Linked DNA regions of Homo sapiens: region 2 is linked to region 1. Evidence: fine-mapped expression QTL. A gene starts in region 1. The other region holds a variant in brackets. All regions are shown on one strand. Distances are between the middles of the regions. Region 1 holds the start of SLC7A3 (solute carrier family 7 member 3). Region 2 overlaps TEX11 (testis expressed 11).

The links. PIP is the estimated chance that this variant, and not a neighbour inherited with it, causes the effect.
Region 2: its variant is the best candidate, but not a certain one, in a credible set for the expression of SLC7A3 in whole blood (TOPMed, PIP 0.86).

The regions. Positions count from the first base shown.
Region 1 is chrX:70,928,576-70,932,963 of GRCh38, forward strand. It overlaps SLC7A3 (solute carrier family 7 member 3), which reads right to left and starts at 2,521. Exons shown (of 12, transcript NM_032803.6): 1 at 2,402-2,521; 2 at 1,053-1,447; 3 at 269-427; 4 at 1-58. The coding sequence starts at 1,422. RefSeq lists an enhancer at 1,764-2,265.
Region 2 is chrX:70,826,171-70,830,558 of GRCh38, forward strand. The region is part of intron 8 of TEX11 (testis expressed 11); the gene reads right to left. Among named protein-coding and RNA genes, the nearest start is that of SNORD3E, 18 kb to the right of the region's middle. The variant T/C (reference allele first, on the strand shown) is at 1,768.

The DNA of each region.
Region 1 (4,388 bases):
ACGCCTGTGAACACTTTGGTAACCAGGGCCGACTCACTAGCCCCGAGAGCCAACAATCCTGTGGGAGAAATGCATTCAGGACTCCCAGAAAGTCTTCAGTCCAAGCTTTGTTTCCCTGCCTCTAGGTTCCTTCCCAGCTTTTCTTCTTCCCCACCATTATCACCTCCCTTAAGCCTTTCTCAGGCCCATCCCCCATCCTTATCCCTGGCCCCAAGGACTAGCCCCTCCTGGCCCAACCCCCACCATTATACCCTGCTCTTTGCCTCACCAGTGAGCAGCAACACGAGGCCCAAAGCAAAGAAATCTGGATATTCTGCAAGGACATGGGGCACGTGCAGTGCAATGGACCCCTGCAGAGTCTTAGAGATGTGGTTCCCAATCAGGTTGTCAAAAGCAGAGCTCCAGGCCCGGGCCACACTGGCTGTACCTGGTGTAGCAGAGAGAGAAACATGTGGCCAAGTTCCCTTCTTCCCAGACCCCAGGCTCACACAAGTCCCTGCCTTTTTCACCTATTCTTACTTTTGTTTTGTTTTGAGACCAAGTCTCACTCTGTCACCCAGGATGGAGTGCAGTGGCACAATCTCCTCTCCCTGCAACCTCTGCCTCCTAGGTTCAAGAGATTCTCCTGCCTCAACCTCCTGAGTAGTTGGGACTACAGGTGTAAGCCACCCTGCGCGGCTAACTTTTGTATTTTTAGTAGAGACAGGGTTTCACCAGGTTGGCCAGGCTGGTCTTGAACTCCTGACCTCAGGTGATCTGTCTGCCTCGGCTTCCCAAAGTGTTGGGATTATAGGCGTGAGCCACTGCACCTGGCCTATTATTACTTTTTAAGAACCAAAACCATTCACTTAATTAAGGAAACCAGGACGGAGATGGATAGAATGAGCAATTTCTCCACACCTTCAACACCCCCCCCCAGACCCCCAGCAAACCCGCACATTTAGGGAGATTGAGGTCCTGTGAATAATATAAAGAATACTTCCACCCAGATTTCCTGACCAAAAACCCCTTTGCTGGCTGTGCAGTTCCCTCCCTCCCCCACCATATCTCACCAATGACATAGGAGAGGATGAGGTTCCAGCCAGTGGTGAAGGCCCAGAGTTCACCCACAGTGACATAGCTGTAGAGATATGCCGAACCAGAACGGGGAACCCGGGCACCAAACTCCGCATAGCACAGCCCAGCCAACACAGAAGACAGGGCAGCCACCAAAAAGCAGATCACAATGGATGGCCCTGCTTTATCTTTGGCCACCTCGCCAGCTAGGACATACACGCCTGCACCCAATGTGCTGCCCACACCCAGGGCCACTAAATCCAGGGTGCTTAGGCATCTGGCAAGGCGAGTCTCAGCCATGCCTGACTCCAGTGTACGTCTGCGTACCAGCTTTTGACCAAATCTGCGAAATGCTTGCCACGGCATCCTAGCAGGAATTGAAGAAGATGATCTGGTGAAAAACAAGACAAAAACCCCTCGACAGGGCTCATTATCCCTAAACTCTGAAAGCGAATTACAAGACCCCCTCCACCAAGCAAAGGAGCTATTGGGAAATGAGGACGGGGATATGGAAGGGACAAAGGCAAGTCACTTTACCTCTAACCTCAGTTTCTTCATAAACAAGTAGGAATTACAATACCTTACAAGGTTTTTGGAAGGGCTAATTTCAGAAATGGCACGTGAAAGCCCCCTGAAGTAGAGTGGCTGGCGCCTAGTAAGTGCTCAATCAATATTAGGTCTCTTTCTCTTGCCAGAAACTGATAGGGTTTATCCTAATCTCAACCCAGGAATCTTGAAACCTAATGTGTCAGTTCCTTGGCCTGTGGCTATTTGGGAATTAAACAGAGCTCCACCCAGGGGCTTCCCCCGGGGCTTCAAACAGACACAGCCCCCAGACCCCCCAGAGGGAGAGGGGACCAACCTCGCTGCAGATTAAAAGTGAGCACCGACTCAATTCCATCCCTCCTCACCAAGCCCACACTGCTCAACTAGCGCAGCTGTCGCCCAGGGGAGTAAGCAAATGTTCCCCTACTTCCTCCCAAGCCCTGCTAGGCTGACCTGCAAGCATCAACAGCGAGGCGGGGCTTCGACATCTAAAGATTTGGAGATGCGCCCCCAGAGGGGCCCCAGGGCAGCCCGAGATTGCTCGCACTCTCCTCTCAGCAGAGAGGAAGGGTTCCACCCGATGCCCCCCGACTCAGGTCCCAGATTTTCCTGCCCCCATCTAGAAATGGTTTGGAGCTGGGGTGGAGACGGGAGCCCTAACTCCCGGGGCGGGGGTCTCGCCAGCAACAGGTCACGGCCCCGTTGATGCAACTGCATGCCATGGTTGCCAGAGAATCCTAGGTACGCCCGGACCCTCGCCGTCCCCCCTCCGACACACGTGTGGGTCCCCAACGCTTACCAGAGAGCTGTTGCAAACCTAGGGAGCACAGAGTCTTGGACTGGGCTCGGTGAGGCGGAGTTAAGCCGAGTTGGGTTGGAGCTGCCGAGTTCGGCCGCTCAGGCTTCAAAGCTGCGGCTTGGGGTCGTTGCGCGCCAAGCGCCCCTTATATACACCAGGAGGCGGAGCCGGTAACGTCATGGGATCCCACCCCCAATCCTCCTCGCTACACACAATACACACACACACACACACACACACACACACACACACACACAACACACACACTTCTTGGCTTTGCAAAAGGATTGCGTGGGGCCTGAGACTGCGTCCCATCCTCACTAGCAAGCCTGGCGTGCCGGGGAGCGAGAAAAGGGGGAGGGCAGTCTTTTCCCATTTGTCTCGCTGGTCGTCAGAACAGGACAATAAGAGGCTTCCTGGCCAAAGAACCCATGAGATTTTCCACCTCTGTGCCCTGTTAGGACCAGTGATTCTGGGCAGGAATGGGGAAGGTAGGTGGGGTGTGATGGGGGGGAGTTGGGTGCGTGTGTGTGTGTGTGTGTGTGTGTGTGTGTGTGTGTGTGTCAGGAGTGAAGCGGAACACAGCAGGGGAGTCTCCACCTCACTCTCAGTCTTTCTTCCTTAGCTTTCTTGTCTACACATCTGACCCTGACCCTTCAGCTCTCACGCTCAGCTGTGGGTGTTTCTAATGCAGGCAGCAGGAGAATGGAAGATGATTTCAAGCCACCTGTATACAGATAATTAATCCAGTCTAAATTGATTTATAGGCCCCAATCTCTCTATAATGTGTCTCCAGCTGCCTATAAATATTAAACTATTAAATGTGAAATTCTGACAATACCAACATCTTGGAGGAGGAAGCTTGTTTAGTTCCATTTTATTGATGTGTAAGCTGAGGCTCAGAGGCATGACTTGTTTGACACCACACCATAATTATTGTTGACCACCTTTGATAAAACCTGGCCTGTTGGACTTCAATGCCTGCCTCCCGTAGGCACCATATCTTATTCAAATGAACAAGAAGAGGGATGTGGCCACAAGGAAAGACAAACAGGGAGAGGCATCAGCAGCAGGGTAGGTCCGTTTAGGCTAGGAGATACTAGGAAACAGAAAAGGACCCGAAGAATCTACGAATGATCACATTGGGTCAGATCCATAATCCATCTGACCCAATCAATTCTTACTCATAAGAAAGCACCAAAGGTTGTGAAAGTGTGGTCCCTGCTCCACCAAGACATCTTGGGGACTAAGGATGGACTCAAATATCCTTGCTTCTTTTAATGATCCATGATGAATATATTACCCATGAATCTAAAATCTAAATCCGTTCTGAAAGAATTGGTATTTTCAACCAGCTGCAGCTCCATTTGGCATTCATTAAGTATTTATTGAGCATTTATTGAGCACTATGTGTAGTAGCTGGTACAGCAATGAAGAGACTATGAAGGAAACATAAAATAAAATCCTTGCCCTCCTAGTCCTAATCTAACTAGGGAAAGAAAACACACACTATACAACTGAAACCTTATTACATAGACGTTAGGAGTGCTGTGTTTGGAATTGCACCTAGGTTAAACTCACAGCTCAGCCACTGTGGATTACCTAACATCCCTGAGCCTCAGTTTCTGGACATAATATACATATTTCACAAGGTTGTTGTGATGCTTAGATGAGATTATGAAGTCAAGTCTTCCTGCCTGGCACATGGAAAGTACTCAAGAAAAACTTGATACATATTTGGAACGATATATTAGTGTATATGATCTGGTTGCTTAGATTAGGTGATTGATTGGATTATGAGATTGATTATTTATCACAGAGATAAAATCCAAATGCCATGAAATCCAGTCTTTTAAAGAGTACAATTCAATAGGATTTAGTATACAGTCACAGAGTTGTGTATCCATCACTACAATCAGTTTTAGAACATTTCATCATTCCAAAAAGAAACCCTGTACCCATTCCCAGACACTCCCCATTTTCTCCC
Region 2 (4,388 bases), 100 kb before region 1:
CATGGTGGCTCATGCCTGTAATCCCAGCTACTTGGGAGGCTAAGGCAGGAGGATCGTTTGAACCCGGGAGGCGAAGGTTGCAGTGAGCCAAGACTGTGCCATTGCACTCCAGCCTGGGCAACAAGAGCGAAACTCCTTGTCAAAAAAAAAAAAAAAGCTAAAATAAGGGTGGGGCAAGATCATGGAATAAAAGCCTGCATTGTTTGTACCCTCCACTGGAACACCAAATTTTAACAACTGTCTGCACACAGAAAAGCACAATCACAAGAACCAAAACCAGGTGAACACTCACAGTACCCGGTTTTAACTACATATTGTGGAAAGAGGCATTGAAGAGGGCAGGATAAACAGTCTTCAATCTCCAAGGCCACCCCTCCCCGCTTCCCTGGCAGCAGCTATGCAGTGCAGAGAGAGAATCTGTGCACATTGCAGAGGAAGAGCACAGCAGCTGGGGAACTTTACATTGAACTCAGTGCTGCACAGTCACAGTAGAGAAAAAAGTCATGCTGGGTTCAGCCAGCGCTTGTGCACAGAGGGAGTGTTTGGACCAGCCTTAGCCACAGGAGAATTACCCTCATCCCAGTGGTGGGAACTTGAGTTTCTTGGCAAGCCTCGTCACTGTGGGCTGAAGTGCTCTGGGGTCCTACATAAACTTGAGTGGCAGTCTAGGGCACAAGGACTGCAATTCCTAGGCAACTCCTAGTGTAAGGCTGGGCTTAGAGCCAGTGAACTTGCCACGTGACCTAGGGAGACAACAGCTGGCACAGCAAAGGGAGGGCTTGCACCATCCCTTCCCCAACCCCAGGCAATAAAGCTCGTAGCAATGAAAGTGACTCCTTCCTTCTGCCTAAGTAGAGGGAAGGGAAGAGTAAAGAGGACTTTGTCTAGCATCTTGGATACCAGCTCAGCCACAGTAGGACAGGGCACTGGGCAGAGTAGTGAGGCCCCCATTCCAGGACCTAGCTCTCAAACCACATTTCTAGACACATCCTGGGCCAAAAGGGAACCCACTGCCTTGAAGGAAAGGATCCAGTCCTGGCAGGATTAATCACCTGCTGACTAAAGAACCCTTGGTATAACCCTGGAATAACCATTAACGACCCAGGGAGTACACCATGGGCCTTGGGCTCTGAGAAGTGCTGGCTTCAGGGGACACCCAGCACATTCCCAGCTGTGGTGGCTCCAGTGAAAGACTCCTTTTGTTTGAGAAAAGCCCAGGAAAAGTAAAGAGGACTTTGTACTGCACTCTAGGTACCAGCTTGGCTCTTGGGGTCCCCAAATCCAGGTGTAGCCTCTTGGACAGTATTTCTCGTCCTGGGCCACAGGAGAGCCCACTGCCCTGAAGGGTGAGTCCCAGGCCTGGCAGCATTCACCACAAGCTGATGGAAGAGACCTTGGGTTTTATGTGAACATCAGTGGTGGCCTAGCAGAACACCCCATGGACCACTGATGGTGGCGGCCACAGGGAGAGACTCCTCTGCCTGTGGAAAGGGAGGGAAGAGTGGGAAGGGCTTTGTATTGTGATTTGAGTGCCAGCTTAACTGCAGTAGAATAAAACAGGTAAATTGCTCAAGTTTCTGACTCCAATCCCTGGCTCCCAGAGAGCATCTTTGGACACACCTGGGTTGTGGGGGAACTCACCATCCTAAAGGGAAGGGCCTTCCTTGGGCAAGGTCCAGTGCTGTGCTGGCTTCAAGTCTGACACAGCACAGGCCCAGTGCTTGCATCACCACACCCCCAGCTCAACACAGAGACAGTGACTCCATA[T/C]GTTTCAGAGAAAGTAAGGGTAAAGAACAAGAGTTTCTGCCTGGTAATCCAGAGAATTCTTTCAGATGTTATCCAAGGTCATCAAGGAGTACCCTTTATGGGTCTACAAGAAACACAGCATTATTAGGCTTGGGGTCCAAGTCTCTTTGAATAACTGGAAGGCCTTCCCAAGAAGGACTGGCATGAGCAAGCCTAGATTGAGAAGACTACAATAAATACCTAACTCTTCAATGCCCAGACACCGATGAATATCTACAAGCATCAACACCATCCAGGAAAACATGACTTCACCAAATGAATTAAATATGGCACCAGGGACCAGTTCTGCAGAAACAGAGATATGTGACTTTTCGGACAGAAAATTCAAAATAGCTATTTTGAAGAAACTGCAAGAAATTTGAAATAACACAAAGAAGGAATTCAGAATTCTATCAGATAAATTTAACAAAGAGACTGAAATAATTTAAAAGAATCAAGCAGAAATGCTGGAGTTGAAAATGCAATTGACATGCTTAAGAATGCATCAGTCTCTTAGCAGCAGAATTGATCAAGCAGAAGAAAACTAGTGAGCTTCAAGACAGGCTATTTGAAAATACACAATCAGAGGAGACAAAAGAAAAAAAATAAAAAAGCATGAAGCATACCTACATGATCTAGAAAATAGCCTCAAAAGGGTAAATCTAAGATCCATTGGCCTTAAAGAGGAGGTAGGGAAAGAGCTATGGGTAAGAAGTTTATTCGAAGAGATAATATCAGAGAATATCCCAAACCTGGAGAAAGATATCAACATTCAAGTATAAGAAGGTTATAGAACACTAAGCAGATTTAACCCAAAGAAGAACACCTCAAGGCATTTAATAATCAAACTCCCAAAGGTCAAGGATAAAGAAAGAATCCCAAAAACAGTAAAAGAGAAGAAAAAAAATCACATACAATCGAACTTCAATACATCTGGCAGCCAACTTATCAGCAGAAACTTTACAGGCCAGGAAAGAGAGGCATGACATATTTAAAGTGCTGAAGGAGAAAAAAAAATGTTTACCCTAGGATAGTATATCCAGCAGAAAGTATCCTTCAAACATGAGGGAGAAATAAAGACTTTCCCAGACAAACAAAAGCTGAGGGATTTCATGAACACCAGACCTGTCCTACAAGAAATGCTAAAGGGAGTTGTTCAATCTGAAAGAAAAGGATGTTAATGAGCAAGAAGAAATCACCTGAAGGTACAAAACTCATGGGTAATAGTAAGCACAAGGCTGGACAGCTGGAAACAGTGGCTCATGCCTGTAATCCCAGCACTTTGGGAGGCCGAGGCAGGTGGATCGCCTGAGGTCAGGAGTTCGAGACCAGCCTGACCAATATGGTGAAACCCCGTCTCTACTAAAAATACAAAAATTATCCGGGTGTGGTGGCATGCACCTGTAGTTCCAGCTACTTGGGAGGCTGAGGCAGGAGAATTACTTGAACCCAGGAGGCGGATGTTGCAGTGAGCCAAGATCATGCCACTGCACTCCAGCCTGGGTGACAGAGCAACATTCCGTCTCAAAAAAAAAAAAAAAAAAAAACAGTAAGCACACAGAAAAAGACAGAATGGTATCACACTGAAATTGTGGGGTGTAAACTTCTCTTGACTTAAGTAGAAAGAATAAATGATGAACCAAACAGAAATAATAACCACAACAACTTTTCAAAACATGGACAGTACCATAAGACATAAAGAAAAACAAAAAAAGTTAATCAGGGGAACAAAGTTAAAGTGTAGAGTTTTTATTAGTTTGTGTGTGTGTGTGTGTGTATGTGTGTGTTTGGCTCTTTGTTAATACAATCAGTGTTACACTGTCATCAATTTAAAATAATGGATTATAAGATAGCATTTGCAAGGCTCACGGTAACCTGAAACTGAAAAACAACGAAAATAAAAAAATAAAAAGGAAGAAATTAAATCATACCACCAGTGAAAATCGCCTTCACTAAAAGGAAGACAGGAAAGAAAGAAATATAATAGAATAAAAAATAGAAAACCAAAAACAATCAGAAAACAAATAACAAAGTGGCAGGAGTAAGTCTTTACTTATCAGTAATAACACTGAATGTAAATAGACTAAACTCTCCAATCAAAGGACATAGAGTGGCTGAATGGATTAAAAAAAAACAAGACCCAATGATCTCTTGCCTATAAGAAACACATTTCCCCTATGAAGATACACACAGATTGAAAATAAACGGATGGAAAAAGATATTCCATGACAACGGAAACCACGAAAGAGCAGGAGTACCTATACTTATATCAGACAAAATGGATTTCAAGACAAAAACTTTAAGGAGAGAGAAAAAAAGGTCACTATATAAGGATAAAGGGGAAAATTCAGCAAGAGGCTATAACAATTTTACATACACATGCACCCAACACTGGAGCACTCAGATATATAAAGCAATTATTAGAGGGAAAGAGAGAGATAGACCCCTGGTCAATGATTTTTTTGGATATGACCCCCACAGGTGACAAAAGCAAAAATAGGCAAATGAGATTGCACCAAACCAAAATGCTCTGCACAGCAAAGGAAACAATCAACAGAGTGAAGAGACAACCTACAGAATAGGAGAAAATATCCACAAATCAC